7 separate regions of the Homo sapiens genome follow, and regions 1, 2, 3, 4, 5 and 6 are each linked to region 7. A link means that fine-mapping ties the variant in region 7 to the plasma level of a protein whose gene starts in the linked region. Region 7 holds a variant in brackets. A gene starts in each other region. All regions are shown on their reverse strands. Region 1 holds the start of EGFLAM (EGF like, fibronectin type III and laminin G domains). Region 2 holds the start of CA4 (carbonic anhydrase 4). Region 3 holds the start of FBP1 (fructose-bisphosphatase 1). Region 4 holds the start of CHAD (chondroadherin). Region 5 holds the start of CPA4 (carboxypeptidase A4). Region 6 holds the start of GZMA (granzyme A). Region 7 holds the start of LOC107987463 (a long non-coding RNA gene).

Evidence for each region. PIP is the chance, under the fine-mapping model, that this variant and not a neighbour inherited with it causes the effect. The UK Biobank Pharma Proteomics Project read protein levels with antibody pairs (Olink). The fine-mapping took linkage between variants from a reference panel, not from the people measured, so its PIPs are less certain.
Region 1: EGFLAM starts here. The variant in region 7 is fine-mapped to the plasma level of the EGFLAM protein (UK Biobank, PIP above 0.99).
Region 2: it holds the start of CA4, and the variant in region 7 is fine-mapped to the plasma level of the CA4 protein (UK Biobank, PIP above 0.99).
Region 3: it holds the start of FBP1, and the variant in region 7 is fine-mapped to the plasma level of the FBP1 protein (UK Biobank, PIP above 0.99).
Region 4: it holds the start of CHAD, and the variant in region 7 is fine-mapped to the plasma level of the CHAD protein (UK Biobank, PIP above 0.99).
Region 5: CPA4 starts here. The variant in region 7 is fine-mapped to the plasma level of the CPA4 protein (UK Biobank, PIP above 0.99).
Region 6: GZMA starts here. The variant in region 7 is fine-mapped to the plasma level of the GZMA protein (UK Biobank, PIP above 0.99).

The regions. Positions count from the first base shown.
Region 1 is chr5:38,256,648-38,260,711 of GRCh38, reverse strand. EGFLAM (EGF like, fibronectin type III and laminin G domains) reads right to left here and starts at 2,153. Exons shown (of 22, transcript NM_152403.4): 1 at 1,861-2,153. The coding sequence starts at 1,957. LOC124900966 (a long non-coding RNA gene) reads left to right here and starts at 2,046. Exons shown (of 2, transcript XR_007058739.1): 1 at 2,046-2,118; 2 at 3,081-3,615. RefSeq lists an enhancer at 3,022-3,523.
Region 2 is chr17:60,147,443-60,151,499 of GRCh38, reverse strand. CA4 (carbonic anhydrase 4) reads right to left here and starts at 1,527. Exons shown (of 8, transcript NM_000717.5): 1 at 1,408-1,527. The coding sequence starts at 1,465.
Region 3 is chr9:94,637,742-94,641,805 of GRCh38, reverse strand. FBP1 (fructose-bisphosphatase 1) reads left to right here and starts at 2,288. Exons shown (of 7, transcript NM_000507.4): 1 at 2,288-2,665. The coding sequence starts at 2,496. RefSeq lists a silencer at 2,155-2,214.
Region 4 is chr17:50,468,446-50,472,507 of GRCh38, reverse strand. It overlaps CHAD (chondroadherin), which reads left to right and starts at 3,628. Exons shown (of 4, transcript NM_001267.3): 1 at 3,628-4,062. The coding sequence starts at 3,695. It overlaps ACSF2 (acyl-CoA synthetase family member 2), which reads right to left. Exons shown (of 16, transcript NM_025149.6): 11 at 1,373-1,480; 12 at 1-80. RefSeq lists enhancers at 2,755-3,712, 3,713-4,062.
Region 5 is chr7:130,291,138-130,295,189 of GRCh38, reverse strand. It overlaps CPA4 (carboxypeptidase A4), which reads right to left and starts at 2,029. Exons shown (of 11, transcript NM_016352.4): 1 at 1,942-2,029. The coding sequence starts at 2,009. RefSeq lists an enhancer at 1,535-1,624.
Region 6 is chr5:55,101,502-55,105,556 of GRCh38, reverse strand. It overlaps GZMA (granzyme A), which reads right to left and starts at 2,911. Exons shown (of 5, transcript NM_006144.4): 1 at 2,805-2,911; 2 at 1-83. The coding sequence starts at 2,874.
Region 7 is chr19:54,247,622-54,251,685 of GRCh38, reverse strand. LILRB5 (leukocyte immunoglobulin like receptor B5) reads left to right here. Exons shown (of 13, transcript NM_001081442.3): 13 at 754-2,265. The coding sequence ends at 900. LOC107987463 (a long non-coding RNA gene) reads left to right here and starts at 3,740. Exons shown (of 3, transcript XR_007067341.1): 1 at 3,740-4,064. RefSeq lists an enhancer at 1-192. The variant T/C (reference allele first, on the strand shown) is at 2,001.

The sequences.
Region 1 (4,064 bases), not on the chromosome of region 7:
GTCTGGATAAAATTATAAAGTAATAAAAATAAAACTCTTCTAGGTTGAACCTAGTCTAAACACTTCTATCTCAAATTTGATGTAATTAATATGCCAAAGTATTTAAGAGGTGGTGTTTCCACTATCAAAACCCTATCTATGCTTCAAATAAAACCAAAGAGGCCAGCATGGCATATTCCTGGCATGAATATCAGAATGAGACCCTGAATGAACCAGGTAGAAAATCTTTTTAGGAGAAGAACTCCAAAAAATAAGAAGGAAAATATGATGACCCACATGAGCAGTTTTATACAACAGGTTTTTATAAAATGCTTTTTAAAAATTCCCCTTAAATGGATTAAAATATATCCTTTAAAAAGCATTGCATACACTGTTCATGCTTTAAAACTATAGATATAACTATGCTTTGTTTAAAAATTGTGACAATTAATAGATGATTTCATGTGAATAAATCTGCAAAATGCAATTGATCGTGATGTGGTTATCTTAAGGAGGAAAGTTAGAAAGAAGCCCTTCACTGAAATCCTTGAAGGTATATGTATGTGTGCGTGCAGGAAGAGAAACAATTTAATGTGATATTACCTTGGACTGAAGCTATTATCTCCAAAATGAATTGAAGAGCTCATAAATGGAGTGGCTCATAATTTAAATATGGTGTAGATTATGATAATGACCTTAGATTTCAAGGCAGGTAACAAGTGCTGGTAATAAGAGACACAGTGCAAAGACTGAGGACGCTTCCAGAGCCGAAATGCAACAAGTCATATTTCCAGATAGAGAGTTTCAATGCGAAAATATTTAAGCATTCACATGGGATCCCGCTAAGACGATTTTCTCTGCCCTCTGATAAATTTTCCTAGCTTTGCCTCTTTCTTACAGAAACGTTTGTGAAGACAAACTGCACTTTCTGTGAGGTTTTGCAGACTGCATTCAAATAAAAGTAATATTGTTTTCCATTGTTCATAAGATATAATTAATCCCATAAGACAACCTCCCTTACAAAGTAAGTTAAGACAAAACAGATTTTTCAGAATTCTAAATATGGTCCCAGCAAAAAGTAATAAAAATCGTTATTTGGGAAACAATGTTTAGAACTTCATTGTTCAGAATGTTCTACTTTGAATAATCTCACAGCATAGGCCAAATCAAAGTAGACCAAAATAAACGAAGACTTTTTACCTATATGCAGCTAGAGGAAACACACGTTATTATGGTTTCAAGTTCTCCCCCAATTCCCAGTCCCTTATAACAGGTTACAACGTACATTTCTTTGTTTAAATGCCAAAGCAAAGACAGGAGTTCAAAACACGGTAAAATTAACCCACTGGGTGCTTCCTTCTGAACAAATGGCCCCAGAGTGGAAGAGGATGCTAAGAGCAGAGTCCACATCCCTGCACAACGCGTGGGCAGGACCCGAGATGGGCAGAGGGGGCTCCAGGCAACCCTTCAGACACTTAACAGGAAATGGCTGGGCTCTGGACAATATGAATTGAGTAAAATGTTTGGAGACGCAGGAGGGGCTGGTTTGACTCCTCTGCATGGTTGCCATCCTCTGTAATTGAGACAGCACGATCGCTGTCCCAACTGTCAGCTCTCTGCGGTCAAACACGGGGACCACCACCTCTATCTACTATGTCTGGAAAATTGATCATTCTTTTAATAAATAAATATCCCTAGCGCCGCCCGGGCTCGGGGGAGGGCGAGGTTTGCGTCTTTTCTCAGCTCCTGGCAGAGCTGAAGCGAGTTAAGCAGACGTTGGTCGGGGAGAGGGAGGCGGTGCGCTGCCCGCTCTGTGTCCTCGCCCCGGAGCCCAGCAGGGGCGCTCGGGGCGTGGTGGCTCTGGGCGGAGGAGCGCATTACCTGGTTTTCGGATGGCCGCTCGGAGCGACACCGCGCCGGGTCCGAGGCTGGAAGCCAGGAGCAGGAGCCGGAGCAAGACGCCTCGGATTAAATCCATTTCGCAGCCGGCGCCTGCAAAGTTTCACCAAGTCCCGGGCGCACACGGAAAGGGCGTCTCCGGGGGCGCGTGGGGGACGCGGCCCCAACGGATCCCCGGGCCGGGGCGAGGAGGTGGGGGGCTGCGAGGGCTGGGCCCGGAAACACGGGTAGTTCCAAGAGGTAGGACTGCAGCCGGGAGGTCGGCGTGCGCGAGTGAAGCCGGCTGCAAGCTGCAGGGCTTTTCGCGGGGGCGGGGGCGACGAAGGAGGCCGACTGGGAGGGAAGGGCTGGCCGCGGGAGGGAGGGAGGCTCGACCGGCCCGGGGATGAAATTACAATCGAGTGGAAGTGAGAGGGACAGGCCCTGAAACCTTCACTCCTCGCCCACCTCGGAAGCAGACAGCCCGCCCCTCACCCTCTCTAGCGACCCCCAGCGCAGCCCTTCCCCGCTGGTGACCTAGATTGGGGACCTGGGAGGGACCGACTTCAAGCACTGGAGACGCAGGGCAGGAGTTAGGCGACTGCGGGTCCAGGACCCTCCGCGGTCCTCACCCTGAAATCTTGGGGCGCCCCCCCTCCACCCCACCTGGGCCCTCCTCCTGCCGCGCCCCTCTAGGCGACTTTTTCTAACACCTCAAAGGTTGCTGTAGTTGGTCCAGCGCACTTGGGGGATGCGAGGGGTAGACGGGGGTCTGTGATTTGCAAGTGGGGTGGGGGTGAGAGGAAGAGAGGCGGGACCGTCCGGGTCTGAGGCGCTAAGAAGATAAATGGGATTTAAGGCTCGCAGATGGAGAGCTGAGGCCAGGCCGCTCAGACTGGGACGCCGGGTGGAGATTAGGGCCTGGAGCGGGGGAGTGGGGGCCCTTCCCGGCAGAGGAAGGCAACTTGAGACCCTCCTGGGGAGGAGATGAAACTCCAAGTTAAGCCTGGCGTCTTAGGGAGGGACGCGAGCTCGAGCCCCCAGGCGGACCGAGAAAAGCCCCTGGGCGGCGCCCAGCTGGGCCTGGGGCAGGGGGCCGGGGCGGGGTCCTGGCCTCTGATCCCGGGATCGGGCTTCCTGGGTTGTCTCCTGAATGGAGAAAGACTCTTTCTCCGCCGCTGAATTTGCTGCCCTAGGACTCAGTAAAATGTACCTTTTGCCAGATTTCGCGGTAGTGCCTGGAGAGGGGAGACCCTGCCTGGGACACAAGTCCCGTTGCATACTGGCGTTCTGACCTCCAAACCAGCGAGAAGAGAAAGCAGATACAATAAATAAACCAAGAGGGAATAAACTTAGAGGCAAACGCGGCCCTCGGCAGTTCCTGGGGAAAGATCAAAGGCCGTAGGAAGTGCCCCGCAGAGGAAATCTGCAGTCACTAGCGACAGGACCGCGCCCGCCCCCTCCCCACCTTGCAACGCTGCCAGGACTCGGTGGGCGTCCTGGCTCTTCACAGTTAGCCTATGTTTGGGAGCGCGGGAGGAAACAATGTTGACTGATATATTCTTCTCCCCTCCCCAGCCCCCCAAACACACACACACAGGATTTCTACTCCTCTTTTAAGAATGAAATATCCCCTGGCTGGAGAGTTTGTAATGAGCTCAATCTTGTTAGTTAGCAAAGCTGAGTGTGTTCCCTTATGTGTTGGCATTTTCAAGTGTGCAATTGTCTGTTCACAAATAAATTCAAAGTCCCCTCCAACTTGAGTATTTGGAAGTTTTAGCTGTGACACCAGAGCTTGTCCTCTTACATAGAACTGGAGCAAAGTTCAGACAGAACTATGCTCTTCACGTCCAAGGTGACCATAAAGCCGGCCACTAAGCTAAGCAAAGTGACTGCCCCCAAGGCTGCTAGTCTCAAAGGTCTCAAAATCATAGACTTTTTAGCATTTTAAAGGTCATCTAGGCCATGCCTCCACTCCACGCAGGAGTCTGCTTTCAGCATTGGTGTCGGGTCGTGCCACCTCCCTTTGAACTCCACCTGTGTGAGAGAGCTCCTCCAGCGCCAGCTGAGAAGTTGTTAGAGGCCTTTCTTTATGCGAAAGTGATTTCTTATCTCGGACTTAATGTGGCACCCAGAACCAAGCGAGTGTTGCAATGCAGATGCCTCCCATGCAGGCTTTCCTACTTAAAAATGATTCTCTGTGATGC
Region 2 (4,057 bases), not on the chromosome of region 7:
CTGCAAAGCATTTCTCTTTCTACTTTCTAGCTGCTTAGTAGGTTTCCAATGTCCAACCCTACAAATAAAAGTTTCCACATTCTGCTTTTTCTCTTTCTTCTCCCAGGGGCCCGGTGGAGAGGCTGCAAGGTGCCCCTCGACCCTCTAAGACAGCTCAGCCAGTCCCTGCTGCAAAGGGCACACGCTGGCTCCTCTCTGTGCAGAGGACACCTTCACCCCTCACTCCGCCGCTTTGAGGATGGAGCACCTAACTTGGGAGAGGAGGTTTCAGCCTGCGTGGACCCCAAGAACCATCCGAGGGGTGGTTGGGCTGAGAACTGGCAGAGGGGGTCTTCCGGTGATGGGGTCTGGGGTTGCAAAGAAGGTGCCTCCAGGATCGGATCCCTGTGCCCAGCCGCTTGAAGCGCCTTTAGCTTCTTATCAAATATTAACATGCCTTTCCTGCCACCTCCCACCTAGAGGAATAATTAAGAGCTCGGCTTCACCATTAATCTTTAAACGAAAATCACCCTGTCCGGAAAGACCGGCTCCGCAGAGGCCTTGGGGCTCCGGGTCCCCCACCCCCCGCCCCCGCCAGGCTCCCAATTCAGCGCTGGAGGTTAGGGAGGCCAGGGGAGCTTGCGACCCTCAGGGGCAAGGAACCCGTGTGGGAAGCGCGGCTTCCAGGACCCTGCCAGACCGCCCTTGCTCTGGCCGCGGGGCAGTCACCCAGCGCTGAGTCCCAGCGGGACGGACGGAAACCCACGGGCAGACGGAGGAGGCTGGGTGAGAAAAGAAGGCGTGCGTTGAGGCGGGTCCGAGAAGCATCCTTTTTTTTTTTTTTTTTTTTTTTTTTTTTTTTTTTTAAACGGAGCACCAGGCTGGAGTGCAGTGGCGTGATCTCACTGCAACCTCCACCTCCTGGGTTCAAGCGATTCTCGGGCCTCAGCCTCCCGAGTAGCTGGGATTACAGGCGTGTGCCACCACGTCCGGCTAATGTTTGTATTTTTGGTAGAGATGGGATTTCACCATGTTGGCCATGCTGGTCTCGAACTCCTGGGCTCAGGTGATCCACCCGCCTCTGCCTCCCAACGTGCTGGCATTTCAGGCTGGAGCACCCGCGCCCGGCCTGAGACGCATCCTTATCAGGGACTCCCAACTCGTCTCGCCGGGCCACGCGCACACACCCTCACCGCGCACACCCGTGCACACGCTCCCCCAGCCGGTGCTGACACGCGTGTGCACACACAAGCTCGCGCGCTGCCCAGTCCTCCCGCACCCTCGCGGCCCCCGGCGCACACGCAACCCGGGACCCCAGCGCCACCGACGCTCACCGGTCGCCCGCGGGGGGATCCTCTGCAGGGGCGGGAGCTGGGGGCACGGAGGGGACCGCCGAGGGGCACCTGGGGCCGGAGCCCGGGAGCTCACCTGCACTGGCCGATGGCCGCGCCGCGGAGAGGGCCAGGAGCGCCAGCAGCATCCGCATCTTGCGGGACAGCAAAGAGTCCTCTGAGCCGGGGGTCGCGCACCGAGGAGGCCGCCGCGGGTGCAGCGATCCTGCCGGCCTGGGTTTTATAGCGGAGCCGCGACGGGAGGGAGCCCCGACAGCTGGACGCGGGAGGCGGCTCCTCCCCCTGGCGGGGCCTGCCCTCCCCTCTCCACCTTCCCCTGTCCCTCATCTGAAATCCTCCGCTCTCCCCGGTCCCCCGCCCTGCCTGGCCACCTCTTGCCCTGTGCGCAAGGCCCCCTCACCCACTCCGCGTCCTCTCCACTCAGCAGCGGCGCCCTGCCCCTCCCCCATCCTACTCCTGGTCCCTGGTTTGGGAACAGGGACACGACACCACAAAGTGCTTGACCCACACAAAGATGAGTGCCCCATGATGACTTTGATCATTCTGGCGCCACCCCTGCGCAGTGGTCTTGAATGGGACCTTGGAATGGCCTTGGGGTGGGGGTGGGGGTGGGGGTGGAGATGGCCTCGAAGAGATGAGAGGCTGAGGGGCGTGTGATGCCGTTTGTTGAATCAGTGGCCGCAGAAAGGCTCTCCTATCTCTCTTTGGCAGTGGCCATTGATTCTCTGGGTCTCATCTCTTCTATTTCCTCCCAGGCTGCTCCAAACTTAATTTCTAAGCAGACCAAAGACCTTTCTTCGAATACAGAGCAAAGCTGTCCCTAAACTACTGCCCTTGCTGGTGTTTATGTGATGACCAGGGAGGGTTGATGGGGCAGAATTAAGAAATGGATTGTAAGAGGATTCGGTGAGGGAGAAGCTGATGGGGTCAAAGGGGAGGAGCTAGGTTCTTTGAGCCCCCCAGGTGGAGAGATGAGATGGGAAGAGAAGAGACTGGGGTCTGAATGGACCCCTGGTTCTCCCATCTGGCAAGACCTCCAGAGGAGTCCAGGGGAAGTTCCCTTAAGGGCGGCTCCAACATTTGGGGAAATGGGGTCCCCCCCATGCCCCCAAGCTGCCTCTTGTCTCCTCTCTTAGCTGTGCCCTCCTGCTACTGCAGGTCCTCTGTGTCCCACATGGGGTGGGGGCTTCTGTGGGAGTTTGGGAAGCTCAGGCTGGGGTGCGGGAGAGGGACGGGGAACCAGGCAGTGGACCTGGACCTCCTCCATCAATCCATCAACAGGAAGCCCCCTTTTTCTGGTTTAGCCACTCCCCATCCGCTGCCAACCTCTCAGTCCCTACCGACCTTCGAACCTGGGCTAGGGACTTCTGAAGGGGGATTGCCTCCCCCAGAAGGATTCAGGCAAAGATGCTTCCTCCTTGCTTAGGGTTGAGGCTGACTCCCCGCTCCTGGCCCAGGATCACACAGCCTCACAGAGCAGCTTTGATCCTACAGAGAGGCAGGAGGGAGGTGAGGGGGTGTCCATGCCAGGCTTAGGGCTCTATTGTCAACACCACTGTATAATGTAATCACCAGCCTGCGACCATGACAGCCACAGGAGGGATTCCACACCCAGAGCCTATTCTGGGGAGTGCATTTGTGTTCACAGGGCTATAAAAATGTCCCTTTCAGGACTGAGGAAGCCTGTTCCTGGGAATAAAAACCACCCCCAGGGAGTCCCTGTGACCTCTGGCCAGCCCCCTGATGAGCAGGGGAGAGGCTTGGGAAACTTTGGTGGGGTTAAGGGACTGTTGATCAATGATCCACTTTAAAGTTCATTGCATTCAGGCCCCCCAGGAGAGAGGGGGGCCCTGGGTGCATTTTGGGACCATAAAGATGGGTGAGGAGAACGAGTCCCTGGTAGGGCATCCCCTCTGAGGAATGCGGGAGGGGTAAAGCTATACACTCTCTTATGGGTGCATCTTAATTATGGGCACCACAGAGCCTGCACATTGGCGATGGGGTGGTGGACTGGTTCCTGCTCCATCTGCCATCTCTAACTTCAAGGTTACACAGGGTGAGTGGCCCTCTCTTCCTGTTCCTGGTCTTAACATTCTCAGCCTTATCTCCAGCCCTGACCCCAGTCCTGGCCTGCCATAAACCAGTCACCTGTCACTATTTAGACTACCTGGGGCCCTGCTTACCTGTAGGGGACAAGGCCTGATTTAGGGTCGTTAGAGCTGGAATGAGTGCTGACATGTCCCAGCGACTTACAGGGCCCATAAAGCTGCCAGCCCAGGCCACCTGAGTGGGAGAGCCCAGCCCAGCAGCCCCAGCCTCCTTCCTCTTACTCTGCAGAGGCCCCCAGTGTTCTGAGTTCAAGTCTTTGCTCTTCTTCTGACTCACGGATGACCTTGGGCAACTTTCCTGCACCCGGCTGATTGCAACTTCCTCATCTATAAACTGGAGATGGTAATCCCTGCCCGGCTGACCTCCACCAATAAACAGTTATTTGGAGTCTGCTGTGAACCAGGGCCTGCCCAGCCCAGACTCTCACAACCGGCCTCTCAGTGCCTGGGTGTAGCCACTGGCCCATGGCGGATGCAAAGATTAATCACACTCTTGTCCTCTGGGGATGTTTGCACGCATGGCCCTGTCAGGAACAGAAGGGAGGCCATGGGAAAGCTAAGGGGCTTTGAGACACATAACCCTGGAGTCACTTCTGGCTCCATCCACTTGCTCTGTGA
Region 3 (4,064 bases), not on the chromosome of region 7:
CATGCACCACCATGCCCAGCTAATTTTTGTACTTTTAGTAGAGACGGGGTTTCTCCATGTTGGTCAGGCTGGTCTCGAGCTCCCAACCTCAGGTGATCTGCCCGCCTCGGCCTCCCAAAGTGAAGTGCTGGGATTACAGGTGTGAGCCAGTGAGCCGGGCCTATTTGAGTTTTTATGTTTAAGGATGTATTTCTCTTACTATTTTTTTTAACACAGGGTTTTTCCTGAAAAGTTGCCTGAGGAACAAAGAGTTAAATAAGACCCTTAAAGGATCAACTCTCTTTGCCAGGCATCTAAGTCCCCTCTGGGGCTTTGAGGAGACAGTCGCTGTCTTTCCTGGTGGTACCACCACCTTCCTTCATTCAACGCCGCCGCATCTGACAACCCTGGGCACAGGAATCTGCACCCCAGGTCTCCACGGTGAATCCAGCAGTCAATTTTCAGAGCTTGTCCTGCCTGCCCCATCCACACCGCTTGGCACATGGGTCAGCCCGCCTTTACTTACCTTCTTCATCTGGCTTCCCGGATGTCACATCTCTTGGTTTTTGGTTGGTTTTTCCAGTTGGCTTTTCCAATTTATACCTGCAGCATGGATCTCTCCTCTGAACTCCAGATACATAAATCTGTCTATTTGACATTGCCTTGGATGTCTAGAAGGCATTTCAAACTTAGCAGGTCCCACACTTAGCTCCTAATTGTCAGTCCTGCCTCCAGCACACGCCCCTCTCGGTGTTCCCCATCGCAGTCGAGGACAACTGCATTCTTCTAGTTTCTCAGGCCTCAAACCTTAGAATCATCCGAGACTCCTGTCTCTCACATATCTCATCTGTCAACGAATCCCATCAGCTCTACCTTCAAAATATGTCCAGAATCCACCACCTCCACTGCTAACACCTGGCTCACTATCTCCTAGTAACCTGGAGGGCACTGTCTTCAGTCTGATCTTCACACAGTAGCCGCAGTATGAAGACACAGGGTAGACCATGCCTCTCTTCTTCTCCAAACTCTCCAGTGGGTTCCTCCTAGTCAAAGTCAAACCTCACTTGGCCCTCTAGACCTCACCTCTGCATCCTCCCGCTGGCCTTATCTCCTCCACCTCTGACCCTTGCTAGCTCTATTTCAGCTCCACCGGTCTCCTGGCCATTCCCTGAACCTGAAACATGGTCTCCTACCCCAGGGCCTGTGCACTGGCTCTCCCGGTGAGGAAACCGCTCTCCTTCCCATCTCCACCGGCGCGTTGCATCCTTCACCTCTTTGCTCACATATCCCTTTCTCAGAGAAGCTTTTACTGAGGCCTCTGCTCACCCTCTTCTCCCCTCCACATTCCGTGTCTTCCTTTTCTATTTCGTTTCTCTCTATGGTACTTATGGCTTATGTAACAAACTAATCTATTGTTTATATATTTATTTTTACTGTTTCTCTGTGAAAACGTACACTCGAAAAGGGCAGGAGTTTTGTCTGTTTGGATCAGGCTCCACCCCTGGAAGGTAGGACAGTGTTCAGCACAGCAGGTGCTCAATAGGTGTTGTTTCGTGAATCAGCACATCAATTGCAGCATTGTGGCTACCAGGGGGTCAGGATGCGGGCGGTGGAGCCCTCTGGCCTTTGTGTGGTAGCCGAGGACTCTGTGTCAGCGACCGTTTTCCGGGAAACTTCCGGGCGAGACTCACATCTTGGAAATTCAAATACTCAATAGCTCTCGAATTCTAGGAATCTTGAGAAGAGGCCTGGATTAAGGATTCAGACGTGGGCCCTCAGATGGGTGAGAAACGGGGACTCTGTGTCTCCTAGCGGGGACAGAAGGGCCAGGTGACAGGCCAGGCAGAGTGGACGGGGCTTGGGCAGGGGGCGGGGGCAGGCAGCCACACGGGGCAGGAGCTGCAGAGCTAAAGCCAGGCCATGTGGACTGGCTGCGGGTTTCGCTGCCTAGCTGGTGGCATTGAGCAAGTTACTTAACCTTTCTGAACTTCCGTTTTATGATTTTGGAGGAAACAGTCATAGCTTTCTCTCTGGCAGAGTCCGATGGCCCGAGTCCCGCTCCACAGTGCGGGTGGAGGGCACGGAGGGGTGTGTGTGGGGGGCGACAGCCCAGGAAGACTAGGGGGCGGCAGGGCGCGTGGGGGCGGGGGTTGGGAGACCGCAGGGAGGATCCCCGACCTTGTCTGAAGATCCAAGCAGGCGGAGCCGCGGTCTGGTCCGCGGGGTAGGCGGGGCGCAAGAGTGTTCCCGGGGGCGGGGGGCCGACCCGCGTCTAAAGGTTTCCGCGATTCACCCGCCGGCGCCTGGCCTGGCCCAGTTGCACCACGAGCGCTGCGGACACTCGGGGCGGCAGTCGGTCTGTCAGTCCTCCCGCCAGGTCCCGCGGCCCGCACCTGCCGCCCGCACCTGCAGCTCCGCACCTGCGGCCAGTGCCTACTGCCCTCTCTTGCCGCCCGCACCTGCAGCCCCGCACCTGCCGCTTGCACCTGCAGCCCCGCGCTCTACCCGGTTCAAGCATGGCTGACCAGGCGCCCTTCGACACGGACGTCAACACCCTGACCCGCTTCGTCATGGAGGAGGGCAGGAAGGCCCGCGGCACGGGCGAGTTGACCCAGCTGCTCAACTCGCTCTGCACAGCAGTCAAAGCCATCTCTTCGGCGGTGCGCAAGGCGGGCATCGCGCACCTGTGAGTCGGGCCTTGGGCGGTGGGCCCCGTCCTGTCTGTCTGCCTGGGGAGCCTGCCCGGCGGGCTGACGTTGGGCCCTCTGAGCCTCCTGCCGTCAGCCTCTGTCTGTCCGTCTGATGTCTGAGCGCCTCTCTCGCTCTCTGTCTGGTAGCCCCTCTCTCCAGAAGCTGGCTCAGCCTCACTCAAGTCCTCATCTCCTCCCTTGACCTTGGAGGGGCCCACCTGGGGGTCCGTCTCACAGGTGTACACCTGATTCCATCTTGCATTCCTCTTCTCTGCCCTGAGCAGCCTGCCTCGTACCCCTCTCAGCCGGCCAAGTGTGGGCACCTGGCCTGCCCGTCATACCCGCCCTAGCCTCAGACAGGAAAGTGCTAGCTCAGGTGCCTTCCTTCCCCATTTCTTCTTTGTCCTCCTTCACTCTTTCTGCAATTAGGGACCCAAGTCAGGTTTCTAATCCAGTTATCTCTGACCTGAAACAAGACCTGTTAGGAGCGAGTGTCCCCCCCGCCCCCCCCGCAAGCAGGCTGGGAGGTCTCCTGTGTGTCCAGAGCCTTTAGGAGCAGCAGGGCTTGTGTGCAAAGGAGCTCCCGTGGGCTGCCCCTTGCTGGGACAGTTGCCATGCTGTGCCAGAAACAGGAAACACCCAGGGCTTCAAAACCCCTATCGATTTGCAATGATGGTGTGTGCAGCCTCTGCCCAATTAGTGGAAAGCTCAAAAGTGGTTTGTAGAATGGTTCTGAATGCGCTATGGAGTGCATCTCGAACGTCACTGGGCACAGGAATCATTTGGGGATCTTGGTAAGATGTGTGCCCTCCTTCCATAGCTCTGGGACAGGTCCTGAGATTCTGCATTTCTAAGAAGTTCTCCTGTGGTGGGTGCTGCCCATCAGATACTGTTTGTCTACTCATCACATTGTGAGTAGCAAGGGGTCAAGTGGAGTGGAGACTCAAAGGACCCCTTCTTGTGAGGTTTTTTGTAAGTCACACAACATCCTTTCGTTTGTGTTGGTGTGCACAGGTATTTTCTTTTTCTTTTCTTTTTTTTTTTTTTTTTGAGATGGAATTTTGCTCTTGTTGCCCAGGCTGGAGTGCAATGGTGCGATCTTGGCTCACCGCAACCTCTGCCTCCCAGGTTCAAGCGATTCTCCTGCCTCAGTCTCCCGAGTAGCTGGGATTACAGGCATGTGCCACCATGCCCAGCTAATTTTGTAATTTTTTTTAGTAGAAACGGGGTTTCTCCATGTTGGTCAGGCTGGTCTCGAACTCCCGACCTCCGGTGATGCCTTGGCCTCCCAAAGTGCTGGGATTACAGGCATGAGCCGCCGTGCGCAGGTATTTTCTAGCTAACTGATCCACACTTTTAACTGAAGTGTAACTGGGTTTTCAGATTGTCCATACA
Region 4 (4,062 bases), not on the chromosome of region 7:
ACGCAGTACCCTCGGATGCACAGCTCCCCGGGCGTGTTCAGCTTTGCCAGCGTCCCTGCCTCCATGTTCATGATCCGGGCCTGGGACAGGATGGCCTCAGGTTGGGGCTTCCTATCCTCTTGCTTCAGGATAGGTGGTCCTTGGAAATGGAGAGAGCTTTGCCTGCCCCCAACCCCCCAACCCAACTGCCTGGAATGAGGCCCCCTGGCTCTGCTTATCCCCATCCAGAGAAGGGAGACAAAGGCTAGAGTCGACCCAAAGCCAGTGAGAGACCTGAGCTGGGCATGAAAGAAGAGCTGAGTCCCAGGCTGGGAGGGCTGAGGAAACAGAGTGGGCAGGCAGCTGCTGCAAAGAAAGAGGTTTGTGGACTGCAGAGCCAGCTGAAGAATTATAAACCGTGCAGAGGAGAAGGGAGTCTCCTCTTACTTCCCATTAAGCAGCAAATAAGCCAAACAGGGTGGCATGGCAACACCATGTGAACAGGAGAGACAGAGTCTGAAAGCCTGGTAGAGAAAAGAGCCACGGCCACCGTGCCAAGGAAAGCTGAGCCTCTGTGTGCCTCAGTGTCTGTGTCCGTGAAATGGGGTGAGTGATGCCTGCCCCTGTTTCCCTTCCAGGTGGGCATCTTAGTGACAGTGGCAGTGCAGCTGTAGCACACACGGGAGGAGGCTCACATCCCTACTCAATCCCTGGGTACATGGTTGCTCTGGCGGGAGGGCAGGGCAGATTCACGCCAGGACAGCGGTCAGCCCCAGGGGAAGCAGCTGCTTGTGCACGGGGGCAGCGATCCCCCAGGGGCGGGAGCAGAAGGGTGCAGGGGAAATCAGGAGCCAGCTGGCACAGCCCCAGTGTTGGAGCAGGAAAGGAGGCATGGCTGGGCATTTGAGATTCAGGTGCACTCTGGGGCAACCTTTGAGGGGCAAAGGGACCGCCCCAAAGGGATAGGCTGCTTGGGAAATGAAGTGTTTACGCCAAGCAAGAAGAAGAACTCTGCTAAAGCGAGAGGCGAGCACCACTGGAGGAAAAGAAGCTGTGTAGGAAAACTCTCTGTGCTCTGGCTCCTCTTTGAGGCTACCCTGGCTGCCCTGAAACAGACAGTGGGCTTGGCAAAAACACACCTCAGACAGGAAGGGAGGCCGCGGAGAAGTTCAGCTGGCAGCCGCTCACAGCCACTGTTCCAGCTCTTCCCCTTTCATGCTTAGCCCACAGAGAACACTCCGGGCCAGGCCTAGCACACCCCTGCTGCTGGGGGGCTCTAGGCATCCTGAGTGAGCCATTTGACTCTCTCACTGAAAGCAACCGATGTCCCAGCTGGGTGCACCCCAGCTGGGTGACGGGAGGTGGGACTTTGGAGTCTTGGTCAGGGGCTCACCTCCGTGTGAGGCATAATTCTGCCCACGCTTTCTGCCTTCTGCTCCACAGTGTCCTCAGGGAAGTGCGCGAATGTCACGGGACTGTTCTCTGTGGTTCCATAAGCAACCTAGAGGGTCCAGAAAGGGTGTTTGAAGAGGGCTCAGCACGTGCAGAGGGATCAGGTGAGCTATCTGAGGAAATGGGAAGGAATTCATAAAAGAAAAGGGAAAGTGGAGGGCAGCCGAATGGTGGAAACAGAGACATCATTGGTAGGGGCCTGGGGTCAGGAGGCAGAGGTGCTGGGAGTGAGCAGACTAGATCTCTGCAGGGCCCCAGATCTGAAAGAAAATTGAGAGCAGGGACACCATTCTCTTCCAGCTGGAGCTCTCTCAGTGCCCCGTTTCCCTGGAGCAGCCACCTGTCTGTGCCTGTGGCTCCGGTATTACCAACACCCCACACTTCTCCCCCCATCCCCTGGCTGCCTTAACCCCACCTTCCTGATTTCAGGCCACATCCCCGGCTCCTCCCTTCCAAGCTGAAGGCCCCATAAACTTGATGAGAAAGCCAGCCTGCCTTGGCCCAGCTAGGAGTGGCACAGACACAACCCCACCCCCGCATTCTGCAAACCCTGAACAAGTGCCTGGCCTTGGGGCAGGCGTCCCCCAAGCTCTGGAGAGTTTCCCGTGAATTTATTTCCATCAAAATAAAAAAACAACCTAAGCAGTGATTTTAAAAACCAGTGGTACCCCCACCCCACCTCCCCCATTTCCAGTGGTTGGAAAGCCTGAGCAACAGAAAAACCAGAAGCCAGCCTTGGAGAAGCCTAAATACCATCAAGGAATGGTCTAGGCCAAGTATGACCCTCCTATCCTAGAGGCAAGGGGCAGAGAGGTTTGGGAAAAGGGCAGGCCCTGGAAACCAGGCCCCAACACGAGGGTACTGGGTAAGGGAAGAGAGGCTAGTTACCCCGTATCCTAGGTCCCCTTTAATCAACGGATACCAGATCTCATCCATCCTCCTCCCTGCACCAAGCTTCCCCCATATCAGCTGCTCTGGCTCTGGCACGGCTGGGGTTTGGTTCAATGTGGGTTCTGGTTTCTCCTTCCACCCCTCATCACAGACAATATCCTGTGCCAGGCAGCTTGGAGCTCACCCTGAGGCCAGAGCTGTGACCCTGCCTGCTCACCCTCCCCTTTCCACAGGAATCCGGACATCGTGGCTGGCAAGTGGGCACACAGAAATCTGGCGGGCTGGGGCGGGACTGCCCACAGAACTTAGGGTCTGGCAGCCAGAGCCGTCCAGGGCTGGTCCCTCGACCTGCCCCACCCCCTCCCGCACCCCTCCTCACAGTCCTGGGGCCACCGCCCGAATGTGGCATCTGCCAAGTACACCTCGGCGCCACTCAGCCGCCACCCTGAGACCCCTCAGGGGCGGGTCCTGACCACTAGGGTTGGGGATGAGGGATGGAGATATTTCGGGGCGATGAAGGAGGGGGGATGGTGCGACTGTGCTTGTGGCCTGTGGTTTCCAGGTGTGTTTGCCATTCCTGTGGGCCACTCTCCCCCACTTCCCACTTCTCTGCTTAGCCTTCAGCGGTGGAAAAAGGGGATGAGGGCGCCGGCGACAGAAACGCAAGCGGGGTTGGAAGAGAGGGGTGGGGGCGCGCCCGAGGGTGGGGAAGGAGCTCGGGTCTACCCAGGGCCAGCTTCGGCGCGTCGAGTCTGAAGTGGGAGACCGACGCCGGGGCGGCTCTCACGCTCGGCAGGCGCCGCACAAGCGCCCCTTTAAAGCGCAGGCAGCTGGCCCACCGCAGGGAGACGCATCCAGCTGTCCGGCCCCGCTTCCTCCCGCCTCGCATCCAGGGCACCCGGCCGAGCGTGTGTGGATGGCGCGGCGTGGAGGCTCAAACCTGAGCAAACAAATAAGTTGAGGGAACGCCTCCCTCTCTCCGATGTAAACTCGGGGCTCCAGACATAACTATTCCCCCTTCCCAGAAAAGCCCCGGGAAAGGCGGTAGGCAGAGGAGCACCATAGGAGAGCGGGGGGCTACAGCCGGGGCTCAGGGCTCGGGGCTCGGGGGCCACGGTCCCACCCCCTCATGCACGGTAGCCGGCTGGGGGAACGGCCCCGCCCCCTTCCCCGTGGAGGGCGGGGGCGCATCTCTGGGCGCGAGCGAGTTAAGCCCAGTGGCCTCGATGCTCCACGTAGGAGCTGGCTCGGCTGCCGGCTGCGGTCAGGGCCACCGTATAAAGAGGGCGGCAGACCCGAGCGCCTAGGACTCGCCGCTGCCCGCGCCCCGCCGCCGCTGCTGCCCCCAGCCCCGGCCCCAGGCGTCCCAGCCATGGTCCGCCCAATGCTCTTGCTCAGCCTCGGCCTCCTGGCTGGTCTGCTGCCGGCGCTGGCCGCCTGCCCCCAGAACTGCCACTGCCACAGCGACCTGCAGCACGTCATCTGCGACAAGGTGGGGCTGCAGAAGATCCCCAAGGTGTCAGAGAAGACCAAGCTGCTCAACCTACAGCGCAACAACTTCCCGGTGCTGGCTGCCAATTCGTTCCGGGCCATGCCGAACCTCGTGTCATTGCACCTGCAGCACTGCCAGATCCGCGAGGTGGCCGCCGGTGCCTTCCGCGGCCTCAAGCAACTTATCTACTTGTACCTGTCCCATAACGACATCCGCGTGCTGCGCGCAGGTGCCTTCGACGACCTGAC
Region 5 (4,052 bases), not on the chromosome of region 7:
GCTTAGCAGCCACCACAAAGAATATTAAGAGATGGTTTCATAGAACTCTTAGATGCCTGCCAGCTACTGTTGATGCTGTAACCAGCTCTGCAACTGGTTCCTGTTCTCTGCCTGCCTGGTGCCTCTAGGCATCCTGGCCATTGTCCCATCCTGAAGATCTCTGAAGACCAGGGCAGAAGACTCCAGTAGAGCAAGAGAGACTGGGGAGATAGGTGAGGCAGATGGAAGGGAGGGGAATGGGTGGTGGGTGGTGGGGAGAAACCATCATCCTCATCTTCAGCAGCCAATCCAGAGCCTGGCTTCCCAACCACTTGAATGCTCAGAGGCCAGCTTCCCCTTGCTCTAAATGTTCCCCTTGCTCTAAAAGCTGGGTGTCTGGGACACCTCTAGAGAGCCCAGGAAGAATTCCACTACCTTTGCTAGGTTTCCTACTATGGCGTGAGAATGGATTTGGGGATGAGAATGACACTATCAGTTCAAACCATCTGCAGTCAGCTCAGGCACACAGCTTTTTCTGTGCAAAATTCCTGCAGAGAGCATTCTAGGGCCTGGCCCAGCTGTCGCAGCCCAGGTGCCCACCACATTGCAAGAGAGGTCTGTATCTTGCGAAATAGAGATTTTTCAGCCACATGAATAGCTGCAGTGGGAGCCTGACAGTTCCATGCGTCAGCCCACACGGCAGCAAGTCTAGTCACTACACACCTACTGCTGAGCCGCCTGTGGGAAAATCTTCCCTGGCCACCTGCCACTCCTAACCCCTCTGAGCTATTTGGCAACAGAGACACAGGTGTGAACAGAAGTCATCATCATAAAACTTAGTCAATCTCATATAAGTAATTACCTCAAAAAACAACCCCAAAGTCTCATTAGCCAGATAGTAAAATAGAAAGAAAACTAAGAGACAGATCCAAGAGATATAGGATTTTATTTGGAGATGAACTTGTGTTATAGCAAAAGGGTACGAGTTTTACGTTCAGAGTTCCAGCTCCCCTGCTTCCCAGCTAAGTGGCCTTGAGCGCGTTCCTTAACATTCTAAGGCTGATTTTTTTCATGTTTAAGTGGAAGAAAATAACACCCCTGCCTGGCAAAGTTGTTGTGTGATCAAAAAGATAATGTACATGAAAGCTCTTTGCAAATGGTAAAGTATTATGCAGTAATGAGTTATTATAATTCAGTCTTCTAACAGGGCACCATGGTATCCCTTTTATCTCTCCTACCACCCAAATGTCCTCTCCCCTGCAAACCTCAAAGTATTCTGCATGGAGCGTGTTGAGCACGTGTGTGTGTGCACACACACACGCGCACACACACACGGTGTTCAGGCATGTGTCTCTGCATGTCATTTTCATAGCTGTGTCTAGGCAAGACCTGTGAAATCTCCACGTCCCAGAAGCCAGTAAGAAAGCACCAGCTCAGAAGAGGGTGTAGCTCAGGGGTAGAGCATTAAACTGCAGATCAAGAGAAGGCACCAGCTCTGCAAAGCCTTCGCCATTAACAAAGAAGTGAAACCAACAAGCTTGAGACCCAGGGTTTCCCTTTATGCATGGCGGAAATTGGAAACAAACCATTTCTGGTAACCAGTAACTCTTAGTAATTAATAACGTAGCTCTTAGTAACCAGTAACTCTTAGTAATTAATAAGGTAGGAGTAAGAAAGTAGATGCCTGGAACTGACCTTATAAGTAAGAACTAGGCAGAAAAAGAACTGGCAGGAGATGAGGGAGCTGGGGAGAGACTGCAATGATCATCTAGTCCTGATTTCACAGATGAAATGGGGTCTCAGAGAAGAGAGTGGACTTGTCCAGGATGACACAGGGGCAAAGCTGGAACAAGAGCCCAGGTCTTCTTCCTCCATGTGAGCTATTATCAGCCATTCATTTTCAGTTCCATTTGGCTCCCATATTTCTGAAATAACCAAATAATAAGTCCAAAAGGAACTTACCCAAAAAATTTTTCTTGGCCACAGATGCTGGACCCAATAAGGGCCCCAATGAACAGTATCCACCTCATGTCCCCGGGGAGTCAGTCATACAGTGGCTGAGTCAAGCTGTATTTATAAAGAGTCTGAGAGTGACTCAAGTCCTCAAAAATGCTAATGTGATTCCCAAGCACCCTTGCAACTCTGACTGTGACAGGCAGGCCCTACCAATGCCTCTCCCATTCCTTTCAAGTGATAAAGGTTGAGCATCTCAATTTACAAGGTCAGGAACTTGCTCCAGGAGCTGAAAAAGTCTGTGCCAAGGGTACCATATTGCTCATCACTTGGCATTTAAATAGTGTTTTTTCAGTGAATAAGCTAATTCCACAGTGTTGGATGGAATTTATCCTGATAGGAGAGGTCAGATTATAAACCTGGCATAGAATTACCTCTAGAATAATAATAAAAAAGTTAAGACTATCAAAGCAAGACTGAGCTGGCTCCAAGACCACATGCTTGACAAGCCCTGCCAGAGAATTTCACCAGGGCAGGTCAGGATGAGGAAAGAGGTTTGGGGCCTCTTTTATGTATCTGAAGCCTAATTCTTCTGACTCCACTAAGGAAATAGAAATGTATCAGGCAAATGATATAGAAAGGATGTTTTAGTCTGAATAAATTATCAGTGTTCCTTGGGGTCTGATCTATGGGGAAGGCTTAATGGTTTTATCAATAATAAGATTTTCAGCCGGGCGAGGTGGCTCATGCCTGTAATCCTAGCACTTTGGGAGGCCGAGGTGGGCGGATCACGAGGTCAGGAGATTGAGACCATCCTGGCTATCACAGTGAAACCTCGTCTCTACTAAAAATACAAAAAATTAGCCGGGCGTGGTGGCGGACGCCTGTAGTCCCAGCTACTCAGGAGAATGGCGTGAACCTGGGAGGCGGAGCTTGCAGTGAGCCGAGATCGCACCACTGCACTCCAGCCTGGGCGACAGAGTGAGACTCCATCTCAAATAAATAAATAAATAAATAATAAGATTTTCTTATACTTCCTAGACTGTGGGTCTGGTGTCCTTTCCGCCAAGTCACAGCTGAATAAATGGAAGACACTCATATCTCCATAACGCCTTCAGGGGCTCTGGGACCTTTGAGTCTGTCCTGGGAGCCCCAGTTCCCACAGCCTTTCCCATCCCACCCTCCCTACGGTCTACATGCTTTCCACACCCACTCAAAGGGAGTGGACACAACCAAGGGTCATAGTTGAGAGAGTTAAAGAAAAACTATCCTGACCTGTGTTAAAATGTAAGACCTAATTCAAGATTATTATGATTAGGACCATGGCTATTTCAGTAGGAAAGACTTACTGTGCTTAACACTGAATACGGCAAAGAAAACAGAGAGGATCAGTGGGATTACTAAGAGAAGACATCAAGGTAGGGGGATTCTTGCTAAAAGCAGGCCAAGGACTTATACATCAAAGTCCCCATCAAAGGTGGGGATGAGGAACTTGATCAGATATCAAGGTGGGAGGGATGACTTCGCAGGATCTTTGCTCAGGCTGGCTTAGCCAGGGCTCAAGAACCAGCCTAATCAAAAGGAGGGTGCAGAATCTCAAGTGTGGTCCCAGAGAGAGCCTTTGTTAGGAGCTGTGGAGCTAGGGGCCATCATCTCCTCTTGCTCCCTCAGGGTCCTTTTGTCCTCTCAACACTTCAACTGAATTCCTACACCCACCCTGTCCACCACAAAGCGTGGGCTCAGCGTCACTGAGATCGATGTCAGCTTTGAAGTCAGCAACAAGAACAACTGAGACCCAAATCTGTAAGAGATGTGAAGTGGGAGAATCAAGGACCAAGCATTCTAGGCAAGCTGAAATTTAGTTCCTACCTTTTCTCCCAGGGAAAATCATCCACATGAAGAAAACCTAAATCCCTAATGGGAGTCAATATCTAAAGAGAAACTGTGTGCAACCTGAGACCGAGGCTTGATAGGGCAACCAGGAAAAAGGAATGTCATTGGCTTGGGTCCCCACCATTTGTGTGTTTGTTTTTTTTGAGACAGAGTTTCACTCTGTCGACCAGGCTGGAGTACAGTGGTGCGACCATAGCTCACTGAAGTCTCAAACTCTTGGGCTCGAG
Region 6 (4,055 bases), not on the chromosome of region 7:
TTTTCTGTCAAGACTAAGTAGGACCATGTAGGGTCTTGAATGAGGAGTTACTTCATTTCCTCCAATAATTTTTTCACAGACATCTGTTCAATGGAAAAAGACAAATCAGATTGGTGCTCACCCCCAAAGAGCTCTACACAAAGTCATGTTTCTAAGACCAGCCATGCTTTTTGCACTCAGAGAGGAAGTCTGGATGAGAGCATTTCCCCTGCTTTTACTCTATGTAGACCCGCAGACATCTGATGCAAATCCTATTCCTGTTGGACTCTAGGGTCCTGTTTTTCCACCCACAGAAGCGAGGCCATTGACTGTTCCAGGATCATTAGGCTGGATGTCACAAACCAGCAACCTCAGGCCCCAGGGCAGAAAGCTCTGCCTTGGTCTTTACCATCAACAGTTGCTGCAGGAAATGCCAGTGGTAGTGACAACCTCAAGTGCTCCCACCCTTTTTGGCTAACTATTAATTTGGGGGAAATAGATAAGACTTTTAGAAGCCTCATAACTTCCCTTTTAACCCCAAGCCATTGCAAAAATATAGCTTATGAACCGATATTAGCATCGTTTAGCTGTGACCCTACCCCTCAGTCCTTTGGTCATTATGAGACTTTTGGTTATTAAACTGCACTGTTCTCACTCATAAGTTAAGAAAATAACATCGATTGCACCTCCCCTTCAATCTCTAGACCAAACCATGGGGTTTAATCTAAGGTCTTTTCCAATGAGATAGGGAAGAGAAGAGAGAAGATACCATATGCCAAGAATTCTGCCTAAGTGACATTTCCTTGATGATAGTCTTGAAGTAGAGACCCATTGTTAAGGAACAGTGAGAACTAAACACAAGGCAAACCATACATGCAGATAGAGAGAACCTTATGTCTTAGTGATACACTCCGAGTGCTCCACCTCCTGCACCAGATGTTCTTGGATTCTCCCAAAATAGTTTTGCTGAGACTCATGGTTTCTTGAATAGGGCACAGTGCCTCTTGTTCCATAATTAGGACTAAGTCATTGCCAAATTCACAGGCAAGTATTAATGACAGCTATAGAAGCCTTTCGTAAGATTTGATGAGGGTAAGAGCAAGGAGGAGAGTGACCACATGAAATGTGGCTAGTGTGATTTGAAAAAGCAGAGGTCTCTGCTTTTAAAAAGGAAACTGGGAGGAAGAAATTCTAGGCTCTAGAAACAAAAGGGTAAAGAGCTTATAGAAACAAAAGACCTTCACCCAATCCCAATTTTCCTAGGGTGATTCATGTACAGATAGATTTCAACTGTGCCTTGCTTTGCTGTCTGTTCCTTATATGGGCCCACACTGCCCTCTCTGAACACAGGAAACAAAGAGGAGCACAGCAGGTTGCTTTTGTTGTTTTCCTTTGAAGAAAAGATATGGCTGGATTTATCTGCCCTGTGTTTTTCTGTTATGGAGGATTTAACATGCCTGAATATAGTCATACTATGCCCTGCTTATAACATAGCCAACCTTTGTCCCAAATGTCCTGCAGCCTTGTTATTTTTATATTTCTTCTCTCTCTCTCTCTTTTTTGTTTTTTTTTTGAGACAGAGTCTCGCTCTGTCACCAGGCTGGAGTGCAGTGGCACGATCTTAGCTCACTGCAGCCTCCAACTCTCTGGTTCAAGCGATTCTCCTGCCTCAGCCTCCTGCGTAGCTGGGATTACAGGCACGTGCCACCATACCCAGCTAATTTTTGTTTTTTTAGTGGAGACAAGGTTTCACCATGTTGGCCAAGATGGTCTCCATCTCTTGACCTTGTGAAACACCCACCTCAGCCTCCCAAAGTCTTCTCATATTTAGGTGCATAAACCAGATATGCACCTAAATATGATAAACCAGAGTTCTTTGGGAATTCCTGGCAAGGCAGGTTATTACATAAGTCCCTGCCTCCAAAAGCTGATGAATCCTGGGAAAAACCGTGGCTGGCTCCATATTGCCACAGCTTGAGAGTAGTCCTCACTTCCTAGCAGGTTCTTCAAGGGAAATCTAGAGCTCCCCAAGAGCTGTCACCCTTTCAGTGGTAATACCATGAATTATACAGCATTTTAACCCATGCATGCTCAACTCACACAAAAGCAGAAATATTGGTTACCATTTGGTAGACAAAAAATTAGCTTAATAAAAAATACTATAGCACACCCAAAGGGTTAATGAGGGAACTGGCCTCACGCCTTAATTTATTGCCAAAGAGTCTCTAGACCAGAGAAATAAGTATAAAAATTCTAATAATTCCTGATTCACTTTTGGTGTCTAGGTCAGATTTGTCTTAATTGTCTTTATCTATGCATTTTCTGCAGCAGGAAAGGCTGAGCTGACTAAGTTGCCACTATTCCTTTCCTGGAAGGTACTATTTGTTTTACGAACAAGAGAGTTTTGTTAACTCATTTTTACATTGTCCTTTTTGGCAATTTTCAAGTTACAAATTGGCAGCAATAAGCATTGGTGGTTCTGCTATCTTTTGCAAAATAATTATGAGAAGAAAAGATTTTTTTTTCTAAAATACAGACATATTTAAAATCCAAGAAAGAATGCTATTTAAAAAAAAAAAATAGAGACAGGGTCTCACTATGTCGCCCAGCCTGGACTCAAACTCCTGCGCTCAAGTGATCCTTCCACCTCAGCGTTCCTAGTAGCTGGGACTACAGGCATGTGCCATTGTGCCTGGCTAAACATTATAAGGCTTGGGGGAAAACATCTTCTTTCAGTATAGGAAGGTAATATTGCCAAAAGTTCATTGAAAGTCTGCTCCATTTTGCTTCATGGTCATAATGGAAATGAGAAGAATCAGTCTTACCTTCAGGAATTAGCAGGAGAGAAACGACAACTGAGAGAGAGGATGCCAGAAATCTATAGGAGTTCCTCATTGTGGCTGCTGTCCCACATCAATCAACCTGAAAATCTGTTTTCAGTTCTTAACTGCCTCTATCTATATACTGAGAGTAAAAAGGATGTGGTTTCCTTTCATTTTTTTTTTCAAGTTTCAAAGTTTAGCATTAGGAAACCAAATCCAAATAAGTGAGAATGGTGGATGATGGCTCACTGCCAGCAGGCAGGCTTTCCTTTGCTAGGACTGCTGAGGGGGGCGCTGGAATTCTACAGGGTAGGAGAGGGGCAAGGGACCTTGTTGCCATCAGAGTACACCAGGGAAGACTGTAAAGTGTCTCAGCTATGATTTTGAAGACGCTTTCATCATCTGCAATATTATCTGTAGTATCCATGACTGGAAACTCTCGAAGACTTAAATTAGAATTTTAATAAAAGTCCTCAAAATTGGTCACCAATCAAAATTCTTTCTAGCTGTCTCCTTGGGTTATATAAGAATTAGCAGGCCAAGTGCAAGCTGAGGACAGGAGGGAGATTTATTTACATAGAGGCTCCTGCCTGGATTTTCCTTCCCCACTTTGTGGTGAGTGTTTATTGTGCTCCTGCCTGGTCTGTGGCAGGTGTGGGAACATGGGCTGGAGGAGGGTAGGGGCTCTTGGCCCTTTTCAGCCCTCTGATTGTGCGTTCCTGATTGTCTAGTTTCACAACTTTAGATACTGAAAGTATCTCCGAGTTTCCCTCCCTCCCCGCCCCCCCCCGACCCCTGCTTCCTGCCTTTCTTCCTTACTTTCTTCTGAACAGGTTTAGGTGAGAAAAGAAGTGGGAGTCATTTTTGTTCCAATGTTGGGGAATGTCTCACTCTAAGAAGAGTCAACCTCAGTCCCTGGAGGAACAGTATGCAGTGTGCTTTCTATTTGAAATGAGTTCAGCTCTTTTTCTGAGCTGAGGATGTGGTCTCCGATACAATATACATGGTCAGATGTGCTGTCAGGATGTTGGGTACTGAACCAACCATCCCCATAGTTAACATCCTGATGACTTCAAACCTAGTGGTTACTTCTTTAGAAATCAAGTGACCTTAGAAGGGAGCCCTGCTGAGACCCCTGCATTTCTTTTTCTCAGATATTACAAGTGTATCAAAGGTTAATCATTTTCAGTAACAGCAGTGAGGACCCTGCTATTGGTTTTGGTGAGTAATTTTAGTGCAGACTTAAAAAAGTCA
Region 7 (4,064 bases):
CAGACACAGCAGGGAGCAAAGCCGCCCCCGCCTCCTGAGCTCACCTCATGGTGGGAGACAAAATGCAAATAAATGCATCGTGTCCAGGAGTGCAACGTGCTGTAAGGAACATAAACCAGGGAAAGGGCAGAGAGTGTGGGGCAGTGGGGCCAGTCTGAATGGAAGGGGAGGGCTGTCTGCTCAGCTGTCATCTGAGAAGCCTGGACAGAGTGGGGCACACGATCCTCTGATGGACGAGCCCCTGCAGGCAGAGGAAACAGCCGTGCAAAGGCCCCGAGGCAGCAGCGAGCTCTTGCGGGAAGGCCCGTGAGGCTGCAGCCAAATGGGCAAGGTCAGAGTGAGGAGCAGAGGCCAGAACCACAGGGAGGGAGCGGCCAGACCCTCCACGGCCTTAGGGCGTCCCTGAGATTCCATCAGGAAAGGGATGTAATCGGATCACCCCGGGAACAGTGAGGAAAATTGACTCCAGGAGGTCAGGGGGACTCAAGGACACCCCCCACCACTGTCTCTCTCCAGCAGAGCCCACACGATGAAGACCCCCAGGCAGTGACGTATGCCCCGGTGAAACACTCCAGACCTAGGAGAGAAATGGCCTCTCCTCCTTCCCCACTGTCTGGGGAATTCCTGGACACAAAGGACAGACAGGCAGAAGAGGACAGACAGATGGACACTGAGAGAGTCCTTTCCTCTCCAGGCCCCCAGGCCTCCCCCACCCCCACCACGTTCCTTCCCTCTCACTCTCCCCCGCTGCAGGCTGCTGCATCTGAAGCCCCCCAGGATGTGACCTACGCCCAGCTGCACAGCTTGACCCTCAGACGGGAGGCAACTGAGCCTCCTCCATCCCAGGAAAGGGAACCTCCAGCTGAACCCAGCATCTACGCCCCCCTGGCCATCCACTAGCCCACGGGGGACCCAGATCTCATACTCAACAGAAGGAGACTCAGAGACTCCAGAAGGCACAGGAGCTGCCCCCAGTGGACACCAATGAACCCCAGCCAGCCTGGACCCCTAACAAAGACCACCAGGACATCCTGGGAACTCTGGGACTCACTAGATTCTGCAGTCAAAGATGACTAATATCCTTGCATTTTTGAAATGAAGCCACAGACTTCTCAATAAATCAATGAGCTGAGAAAACTGAAACAGAAATTAGAGCATGGTATAAATTTGGAATGATAATGTAAATATTACACATTAAATGATGAAATCGGAAAACTACAAATGAGCGAATGAATTAGAAAAGAATAAAACCTACGTAATTAATGACCTTGGCAATGACAGAAAGAATTTAGAAAAAGAACAACAAATTATTCCAAATGAAGGTGTGAGGAAGGGGACAAAAATAACAAGAGGAGTTACTAATGAGGGCTACGTGAAAACTCGATGAAGCCAAAAAAGCTCATTCTTGAGAATGTGAATTACATTCACAAATCCTAGCCACAATAAGCAAGGAAAAAAGCGGGGTTCAGGCACACATTTCCATATGGGGGTGAAACAGCAGACACCACCACAAATCTGACACATATTGCCTTTATTTTTTTCACTTTTAAGTTCAGGGATACATGTGCAGGTTTGTTAGACAGATAAACTTGTGTCAAGGGGATTTGTCTTGGTTTTTGTGTGAGGGTTTTTGTTTTGTTTTGTTTTGTTTTTTGAGACGGAGTCTCGCTCTATCACCAGGCTGGAGTACAGTGGAGTGATCTCGGCTCACTGCAACCTCTGCCTCCCGGGTTCAAGCGATTCTCCTGCCTCAGTCTCCCGAGTAACTGGGACTACAGGCACCTGCCACCACGCCCGGCTAATTTTTGTATTTTTAGTAGAGACAGGGTTTCTCCATGTTGGTCAGGCTGGTCTCAAACTCCCGACCTCAGGTGATCCGCCCGCCTCAGCCTCCCAAAGTGCTGGGCTTACAGGCGTGAGCCACCACGTCCAGCCCATACATTTCAATTTTAAAGGGATGCGCCCTAGTCCTTAGTTAGTCTCTCCTCATCTCTATAAAA[T/C]GTTCAGCTACTCACCTCTTGGGCTATTGCTAGACATCGTTTTCTCTTCCTTCTTTCTGACGCCTACAATAGATAGGACATTCCCCCTCCTCATTCTATTCTCCCAAGTACTTTAAATTGCAATTTATAAAGTTTCTATGCTACACTCTAAAAAAAATTCTGTTTTGTTTTCTAATTTCATAATTGGTGCTTCACTGTGTCTTGTCCTCGAAGGAATGAGTATTTTGATTGTGTTCATTAAATCTGATTTTTCTATGTCTTCTAATTATTTTATATAATATTCATTCTGCTGTAGAAAAAAAAATCATATAATCCTGCCTCAGAAATTCAATGTCCTCTGTATTTCTCAAATATTTAAACATGTTTAACCTAAGATGGGTCTCACACATTCCTAGTACTCCTTTTGACCATGATAATCCTCATTAGTGAGTGTGGATTGTCAACCATAGCACTTTGTGTTTGATTTTTTGGTTTGTTTTTTGTTTTTATTTATTTATTTATTTATTTTTTGAGACGGAGTCTCACTCTGTCACCCAGGCTAGAGTGCAGTGGCGTGATCTCAGCTCACTGCAACCTCTGTCTCCTGAGTTCAAGCAACTCTCCTACCTTAGCCTCCCGAGTAGCTGGGACTACAGGTGCCCGCCACCACAACCAGCTAATCTTTTTTTTTTTTTTTTTTTGTATTTTTAGTAGAGATGGGGTTTCACCGTGTGGCCAGGATGGTCTCGATCTCTTGACCTCATGATCTGCCTGCCTCGGCCTCCCAAAGTGCTGGGATTACAGGCGTGAGCCACCACGCCCAGCCTGTGTTTGTTTTTGAGACAGGTTCTTGCTCTGTCACCCAGGCTAAAGTGCAGTGGCGCACCACCCCAGTTCACTGCAACCTCCGCCTGCCAGACTCAAGCGATCTTCGACCTCAGGCTCCTAAGTAGCTGGAACTACAGGTGTGCACCACCACACCCAGTTCATTTTTGTCTTTTTAGTAGAGATGGGGTTTCACCATGTTGCCCAGGCTGGTCTCGAACTCCTGGGCTCCAGCGATCTGCCCACCTCGGCCTCCCAGAGCGCTGGGAAAATAGGCGTGAGCCATCGCAGGCAGCCAGTCATAGCACTTTTTATCATTAGGATGATTCCTCTTTCTTCTCATTCTTGGACACTCATCTCCCAGTGCCTCATCTGCCAGAGAGGGTTTCTACCAGGGCTGCACTGGGCGTTAGGCTTGAAAAGAGGAGGACGGCACCACCTGCCCGGGTCTTGTGAGTCTGCTCAGGCCTGTAACCAGCAGGGGAGGGTCCAGTGTGAACCTCATGTCTGACAACTCTACAATGAATCTATTTCACACACACAGAGGGGGAGGCTCAGGGCTGACCATAAACCTGAGTCAATGAGCAGAGATACCCCAGTGCCATCCACAAACACAGGGGACGAGGAGCCACAACTTCCCACTTTCACCCAAAACCCCAACCCCTCCCTGACTGTGAGGGCCCTGGGGTTCTCCTCTGTCTCATATAGAGGCGGAAACCTCCCTTTTAGTGATTCCCTGACATTGCAAGTCACCAGAAGCCAACTCAGCTCTGACCTCGCTGCTTCCTGAGGTTTCCTGCCTGTGTCAGGAAGTTTCATTTCTCATTTCCTTCTATGGCTGCGTATTTCAGAAACATGTATTAGTCAGGGTTCTCTAGAGGGGCAGAACTAACAGGATAGATGTATATATAAAGGGGAGTTTATTAAGGAGTATTGATCCACACGATCACAAGGTGAGGTCCCACAATAGACTGTCTGTAAGCTGAGGAGCAAGGAAGCTAGTCCGAGTACCAAAACCTCAGAAGCCGAGAAGCCGACAGTGCAGCCCTTCAGTCTGTGGTCAAAGGCTCTGCATGGGAAGGTCAGGGATTGGCAGAGTAGGAGATGGACCTGGCTGGGCTGGGGGTGAGAGCAATGCAGGGTCCGTCCTGTACAGCCCACTCCCTCCCCCAGGCCCTGCTGTGCTGGGGAAGGGAGGGTTGTAAGGAGGACACAGCCCCAGATGGAGACACTAAGACAGGCCCCTGCTGTCAGATGAGA